2 linked regions of the Homo sapiens genome follow. The protein of the gene in region 1 purifies or fractionates together with the protein of each later gene. This does not show direct contact. Each region holds a gene or a part of one and is shown on either strand. Other genes may lie near its edges. The genes, in order: ZNF253 and AKR1B1.

What was found.
Region 2: the proteins of ZNF253 (region 1) and AKR1B1 purify together in Homo sapiens (co-immunoprecipitation; one large-scale study listed by IntAct). This does not show direct contact.

Annotation. Positions count from the first base shown.
Region 1 is NC_000019.10:19,864,707-19,868,966, forward strand, and holds the start of ZNF253 (zinc finger protein 253), read left to right. Parts: upstream 1-1,175; 5' UTR 1,176-1,290; coding exon 1,291-1,293; intron 1,294-1,729; exon of another isoform or gene 1,730-4,260. UniProt on the Homo sapiens protein: May function as a transcription factor. Seem to have a transcriptional repression activity.
Region 2 is NC_000007.14:134,452,362-134,456,171, reverse strand, and holds part of AKR1B1 (aldo-keto reductase family 1 member B1), read left to right. Parts: intron 1-3,810. UniProt on the Homo sapiens protein: Catalyzes the NADPH-dependent reduction of a wide variety of carbonyl-containing compounds to their corresponding alcohols.

The sequences.
Region 1 (4,260 bases):
GGAGACGCAGTCTCACTTTGTCACCCAGGCTTGAGTGCAGTGGTGCGATCTTGGCTCACCGCAACCTCTGCCTCCTGGGTTCAAGCCATTCTCCTGCCTCAGCCTCCTGAGTAGCTGGGACCACAGGTGCATGCCACCACGCCCGGGTAATTTTTTGTATTTTTAGTAGAGACAGAGTTTCACCGTGTTAGCCAGGATGGTCTCGATTTCCTGACCCAGTGATCTGCCCTCCTCAGCCTCCCAAAGTACTGGGATTACAGGCCTGAGCCACCGCACCTGGCTTTACAAGGTCTTATTAAAATTAGCTTTAGTATTGATAATACACTATTACCAAAGTAAAAGTTGACTTTCTCTTGAACAAACATTTCATGTATTATTAATATGACAGCAAAGTACTTCTGTTCACCTTTTGAATACATTCAAAAAGAGAGAGAATATGAGATAGAATTTTCCCATGCTCTGGGATGGGATGCTCAGCTCAGGGAGGAAGCCGTTTGAAAAGGCTCCAGCTAGGCTAGGCGCGGTGGCTCACGCTTGTAATCCCAGCACTTTGGGAGGCCGAGGCGGGCGGATCACCTGAGATCGGGAGCTCGAGACCAGCCTGACCAACACGGAGAAACCCTGTCTCTACTAAAAGTACAAAAAATTAGACGGGCGTGGTGAGGCATGCCTGTAATCCCAGCTACATGGGAGGCTGAGGTAGGAGAATCGCTTGAACCCGGGAGGTGCAGGTTGCGGTGAGCCAACATCGTGCCATTGCACTCTAGCCTGGGCAACAAGAGGGAAACTCCGTCTCGGTGGGGGGAAAAAAGAAAGAAAAGAAAGAAAGAAAGAAAGAAAGAAAAAGAAAGAAAGAAAGAAAGGAAAGAAAGAAAGAAAGAAAGAAAGAAAGAAAGAAAGAAAGAAAGAAAGAAAGAAAGAAAGAAAGAAAGAAAGAAAGAAAGAAAGAAAGAAAGAAAGAAAGAAAGAAAGAAAAGGCTGCAGCCTAGGCTGTCACTCTTTCTTCACTCAGCCCAGTATCTGATCACATCTGTCACTCAGCGGCTGGGGAGGCGGGGCCTTAGGCATTATCCAATGAGGGACGCTGGGCCGGAAACCGTCCAATCAGGCACGCAGCTGGAGCGAACCACATGGTTTCTGGGGGCCTTTGTTTCTCGCTGCAGCGGGAGCTCCAGGTTTATCCTCAGTGTTCTGTGTCCTGTGCTTATAGAGGCCCGTCCTCTGTGGCCGTGTGACCTGCAAGTATTGGGAGAGCCACAGCTAAACCCCGGGACCCCTGGAAGCCTAGAAATGGTGAGTGCCGGGTCCAACGTCCCGAGAGAGGGGAGAGGCTGTTTGGAACGGTGGGAAGTGGCTCTGGCGGGACTCTGCTTCCTCACAGTCAGCTCCACAATCTGCCGCCGGAGTTCTCCCTGCCCAGCTCGGCCTCAGTCCCCTTCAGCCATAAGATGGCGGCTGCGGTGACATCCGGGGCCCGGCACAGTGATTGTGCCCTGGCCTGGAGCCCTCTTTCAGCAGCTCTGCACCCGCAGCACCGCGTCTCTCCCAGATCATGCAAGGACCACGGGAGGGTCGTCAGGGGAGAATCCTGACTCGGTTCCCTGCGGGTTCATGAATGGGAAGAGCTTTGGTCCGTGAGGTTGTTAGAAACAAGCGCTTGGTGCCGCAAAACAACACAAAACAAAAAACTACCCAGCACTTAGAAAATTTCACAGGAAGGCATATTTACTTCTGAAGAAGAGTGCTGCTCGCGTCCGACCTGATCGCAAGAGCACACAGAAGAAAGGAAGGAAGGTTTTTTTTTTTTTTGAGGCGGAGTTTTGCTCTTGTGGCCCAGGCTAAAGTACAATGGCGCGATCTCGGCTCACTGCAACCTCCGTCTCCCGGGTTCAAGTGATTCTCCTGCCTCAGCCTCCCGAGTAGCTGGGGTTACAGGCATGCGTCACCACACCCGGCTGATTTTGTATTTTTAGTAGACATGCCGTTTCACCATGTTGGTCAGGCTGGTTTTGAACTCCCGAACTCAGTTGATCCGCCCGCCTCGGCCTCCCAGTTTGAAAGGGGTTTTTAACCCTAAACGCCGTTATTGCCTCTGTGTCCTTCCCCCATTGGCCGGGGTCTGACCTCACAATCTAGGCTGACCCGATTGGCTACTTTCCAAATAAGGAAGGGGTTCGGGTCGCAGATTGGAACAGGCGGTTTGGGTTGTTTACGGAGCGGGTGTCTAGGTACAAAGAGGTACAAAAAAGTTGGTCCTAAGAACAAGGAACAAGAAAGTTAGGCCCTTGAAGAGGAATCTATTATATCTGTCAGGGTTCACAGTTTCCCTTTTCTCCTATTAAAAATTTATGGGGCCGGGCGCGGTGGCTCACGCCTGTAATAACAACACTTCAGGAGGTCGAGGTGGATGGATCACTTGAGGTCAGGAGTTGAAGACCAGCCTGGCCAAAATGGGGAAACCCCATCTCTACTAAAAGTACAAAAATTAGCTGGGTGTGATGGCGAATGTCTGGTTTTCTGTTTCTGCATTAGTTTTCTGAAATAATGGTCTACAGCTTTATTGATGTTATTGCAAAGGACATGATCATTTATTTTTAAATGGCCAGAGAGTATTCCATGATATTTATGTACCATATTTTGTTTTTACTAAATCTTTTATTTTATTTTATTTTTGGAGACAGAGTGTCACTTATTGCCCAGGCTAGAGTGCTGTGGAGTGATGCAGCCTTATTTAGCCTCAACCTCCCTGGCTCAAGCAATTCTCTCCTACCTCATCCTTTCACGTAGCTTGATCTACACGCTGGTGTTACCACGCCTGGCCAATTTTTCTCTTTGTATTTTCTGTGGAGACAGGATTTTGCAATGTTGCCCAGGTTGGTCTTAAACTTCTAAGCTCAGGCAATCCACCTGCCTCAGCCTCCCAGAGTGCTGGGATTACAGGCATGAGCCACCGCATCTGACCATACCGTGTTTTCTTTATCCAGTCTACCACTGATAGGGCCTGTCCATGTCTTTGCTATTGTGAATAGTGCTGCAATGAACATACATATGAATGTATCTTTATAATACAATAATTTATATTTCTTTGGGTATATACCCAATTATGAGGTAGAGTATAAGCATTCCCTTTTCTCTGCAACCTTGCCAGCATCTGTTATTTTTTGACTTTTTAAAAATAGCCATTCTGACTGGTGTGATGTGGTATCTCATTGTGGTTTCTCTTAATTTCTCTAATGATTAGTGATGAGCTTTTTTTTTTTCATATGCTTGCTAGCCACATGTATATGTTCTTTTGAAAAGCATCTATTCATGTTTTTTTGGCCTATTTTTTAATGAGATTTTTTTTTTCTTGTAAACTTGTTTAAGTTCTTAATAAATTCTGGATATTAGACTTTTGTCAGAGGCAAAGTTTGCAAATTTTTTTTATTCTGTAGGTTGTCTGTTTACTCTGTTAATAGTTTCCTTTGCTGTGAAGAAGCTCTTTAGTTCAAATAGGTCCCATTGTCAATTTTTGCTTTTGTTGCAATTGCTTTTGGTAGCTTCATCATGAAGTGTTTGCCAGTTTCTGTGTCTAGAATGGTACTTCCTAGGTTATCTTGCAAGGTTTCTTACAATTTTAAGTTTTTCATTTAAGTCTTTAATTAATCTTGAGTTGATTTTGTATATTGTGTAATGAAGGGGTCCACTTTCAGTCTTCTACATAGTGCTAGCTAGTTATTCCAGCACCATTTATTAAATGGAGAATTCTTTCCACATTTCTCTTATCAGCTTTGCCAAAAATCTGATGATGGTAGGAGGGTGGCATTATTTCTGGGCTCTCTATTCTGTTGCATTGGTCTTGTGCACTCATGAACTTTTTTTTATAATATCTTTCTCTCTTCTGCTTTTTCCCCCATAAGCATTTTTTCAAGTGCATACAGTGTGTAAAATTCTGATGTCCAAGAGTTCAAAAACTCTTTAAAAAGTTCCAAAAAAGGGGATTGGGGGGCTAGGGGAGGGACAGCATTAGGAGAAATACCTAGTGTAAATAATGGTTTGATGGGTGCAGCAAACCTTCATGGCACGTGTATACCTATGTAACAAACCTGCACGTTATGCACATGTACCCCAGAACTTTAAAGTATAATAAATAAATAAAAAGCTTAAAAAATATTTTGATATTCTCTCTTTTCTTAAGGAATTTAGGTTATATGTAGATGCTTTTCTCTGCTTTTTTTGAAATACATGTAAATCATATGAACAGCTAAATAAACCCTTTGT
Region 2 (3,810 bases), on another chromosome or scaffold:
ATTCTTTCACAGATGCTCGACAGAAGATGTGATCCTTTGCCTGTCTTTGTGACAGCTGGAGGAGGCCCTGCAGGCAGGTGCAGTTCCTTATTCTCCTGGGTCTTCCCATGCCGTAGCGGCTGTGTTGTACCTTTCAGACCCTCAGCAGGGCTCTGGTAGTCTCTACTCTTGAAGGTCCTCAAACTCCATTCTCTTCTCAGGTGAGGGTTTCAGGCAGATGGGGAGACCATCTCTGCCCCAGACCCATGTGGCTTGGACAGGGTTTCTTTCTGGCAGTCTTGCCTTCTACATTGGATAGTAAACAATTACACCTGTAATCCCAGCACTTTGGAAGGCCAAGGCGGGTGGATCACCTGAGGTCAGGAGTTCGAGACCAGCTGGCCAACATGGTGAAACCCCCTCTCTACTAAAAATACAAAAATTAGCCCGGCATGGTGGTGGGTGCCTGTAATCCCAGCTGCTTGGGAGGCTGAGGCAGGAGAATCACTTGAATCCAGAAGGTAGAGGTTGCCATGATCTGAGATTGTGCCACTGCACTCCAGCCTAGGCGACAAGAGCAAAAAAAAACTCGGTCTCAGAAACAACAACAACAACAAAAACCCATCACAGCATTGTAAAGCCAGGAAGCTTTTAAAACAGAGATGATGTCTGGTGCCCACCAGTGTCTTGTTACTGATAGTGTTTTTAATCTAGTTGAAAAATTGTTGGAGGTAAAAGTCATTGTAAGTCTCCTATGTATGCTCACAGAATACTCCTAGGGCTGAAGGTACAACTATGTTTCTCCATCTTTTGCCATGATCACTACCTCCCTCCCACCTAGGAGCCTTGTGAGACTTTTTTTTCCCCTAATTTGCCCCAAAATAAAATTGTAATATCAGAGATAATATTGTACTTCTGCTTATGGCCAGTAGCCTTCTAGAGGGTCACAAGCTGTTCTATAAGCTGAGGGGGGTTTTTTTGCCCCAGAGAACTAATTTTTGTCTCTTTGGGGACAATAGCACCCACTTTAAGAATGCATGAGGTAAAAGAAAATGTGCCAGGAAAGACTTGCTCCACCTTCCCCAAGTGGGGTAAGCTTGTGATGGCCCAAGATCCTTGGATGGGGTGAGGGTTGAGGCGCTGTGGGCATGGAGGTAACACAGGAGCCAGATTTACTGTTCACTTCCCTGGTGTCTCTAAAGCCCCCATCTCTTCCTCTTCAAGACCAAAGACATTTAAATAAGCCCTGCCCCTACAGGGTCAGTCCTGGTCCATGCACATCTCAACTAGTTGGAAACAGCAGTGTCTTAGAATTTGGGACAAATTGATTAAAACAGAACAGGAGGAAGTTAATTTCTGCTGCCAAACCTGATTCTGAGTGATCGTTTCCTGTTCCTTGCTCCAGGATTATCAGCACAGCATTCTCATGCTTCCTACTCAGGACCGTTTCTTTACCCAAAGTGAAGTTTCCTTTGCCCCCTCCCCTTATCCTTTGATTTCAGTAGTAACACCTGCTAACTAGAGAACATTTCAAAAATGAAGAGTTCCCTGTTCCCAGAGATCCCCGTGGTTAATATTGCAAAATATCCAATCTCTGAGATACTTTGGTTTTACCATAAACACTGTCCTGTGACCGTCTTCCTGTTTAGCACTGTGGCTTGCTTTTTGACTTGCAGAGGGAAGAGAGGGAGGGGTATCTTGAAGTAACTAGCAAGACCTGTAAGCAAAAGGGAAGAAGACTAGGTTTTAAAAGGAGTGTTGTATCTGTGTAGGAGGGAGACACTGATTTTAGTTATCAGTGTCTCAGAGTTGGTATTAGCCAGCCGGTGTTATCAAAGGAGGAACTAGGACCGCTGTCTTGAAGGAGGTGGTGGAGGACTCAAGGGCAGAGGCTTCTCACTGCCATCACTTGGTGCCATCAGCCCAGAGCATTTCAAGTCACTGCCCAACGTAGAGCTTTGCAGAGCCAGAAGTTCTGGGAGGAATGGGCATGCATGGTTTTGCCCATCAAGGGCACACAGATTAGTGGCAGGATCGGGTTAGAAACATGTAGGATTTGTATGATTGAGCTGTAATTGGAGTGTTTCATATACTGCATTTCTACAGCTCTCATCAGTAATGGCTGTGCCTGGATGCCACCCAGCATGTTTTCATAGTTTACCTTCTTTTTAGAAGTCAATCTGGACCCCTCCTTCTGTTTGCATTTTCTCTTTGTTGACATGGAATGGGGAGATGTTGTCATCCTGTGTTGGCATTCCCAAGTTTAGTGAATGGTTTCTCACCATAGCTTAAGTTGGCTGCTTCATTTTTCATAAGGCAAATTAGTTTCTCTCAGGGAAGGGCTGTACATTGAGATCATTAACATAGAATGTGGTTGTGGATCCTCGTACATTTTCATTGCAGAGGTGACTTTTTCCCTCCAGCACCTTTGATCAGCCTCCCAGCACACATGTCTCCAGCGAATGGCACATATCCAAGGAATGATCAGCAGCTTCTTCGTGACCTCTTGCAGTCATTGCTGTCTTTTACTTTTCTAGAAAAACCTCTCACAACTTTTTTTTCATGTCGTGCCAACGCAAGCTTGATTATCCTAGTCTGTGCTCTTTTGGTTCCAAAGAACTGAAAAACCACTTTAATCTTAAGCAGGAAAAAAAAAAGTGTGTTTGGGGTGGGGATTGATTGACTTCCCCAAACAACAGCCGCTGACATTAGGTGTTTGAGATTCAGGGTTGTAAATGTTGTCACCAGGATTTGGCCTCCCTCCACTTTCCTGCAGCAGCTCCAGGCTGACATTCTCCCAGCTCAGTGACCCCAGCAGAACCGGGGCTGGACTCAGGGGTTCCAATTCAAGTGCAAAGATTGAGTCTTATGGCCTGGATTGAGTCATGTTCCTGTCCCCGCACCAGTTGCATGGCAGGCAGTGCGTGGCTAGGCTGAGCCTGCGGAGTGTGCCCTCAGCAGCTCCTCAGAGAAAAATCAATCAAGGCGCCATCAAGCCTGGAGAAAGTTCAGTGTGTCCTGGGCAGTTTCCTGCCTGGGCCCCAGTTGTTCTTTCTGGGGTAGGGATGTCCTCTGCTCTCCCTGCTGTCATCAGTGGTGGTTGTGCCCGGACACCACTCAGGGCCTGTGGTAAGGCATTCTTTCTGGAAATTGAGATTCTCTGTTCCTTCAACCGTGCAGAGTGGGGAAGGCTGCAAGAGCAGCTTCTGAGGTCCTCCAGTCAAATAAGAGGTCGCCAGGTCCTCTGAGGGTCGTCCCCTCTTAACCCACACCTTCGATGAGCATCCCCACCCTGCCTCGCTGCTCCCTCTGAGGTGGAGAGTGAGCTCCATGCTAACAGGCTCTGGTAACGGGCTTGTTCAACTGGGCCCCTTTCTTCCCCAAAGCCTGTTGAAAATAGCTGATGTCAAAACACAGATGTCTGCAGCTGCTATGGCCCTGGGGGGTTTTTCTTTTCATTTGTTTCTACCCCAGCTCTCCAAAGGAATGTGCTCTGTTCATTCAACAGCCCGCTGCACATGTTTATTGCTCAGCTCTGTGATCATAGCAGGATAGTGAAAGTTGGGGGATACGTGTCCATGCAGCCTACCTGGGTGCCAGTGAAGCGCGATGCCATGTAGGCACTTCCTCCTCCTCTTCAGTAGCCAGGCTCCCCACAGCTGTTCTGGTTACTCAGATGGTCAGGTGGCTTGGCCATGGACACCCATTCAGTCATTTTGCCAGGTCAGCCACTAACCATTTGGTGATCTTCCATGATCCACATTCCCCCTCGTTTCCCTTTAACTTATTTCTCTCTGCTGATACCTCTGAGGGGCCATCTCCCGTGTCTCC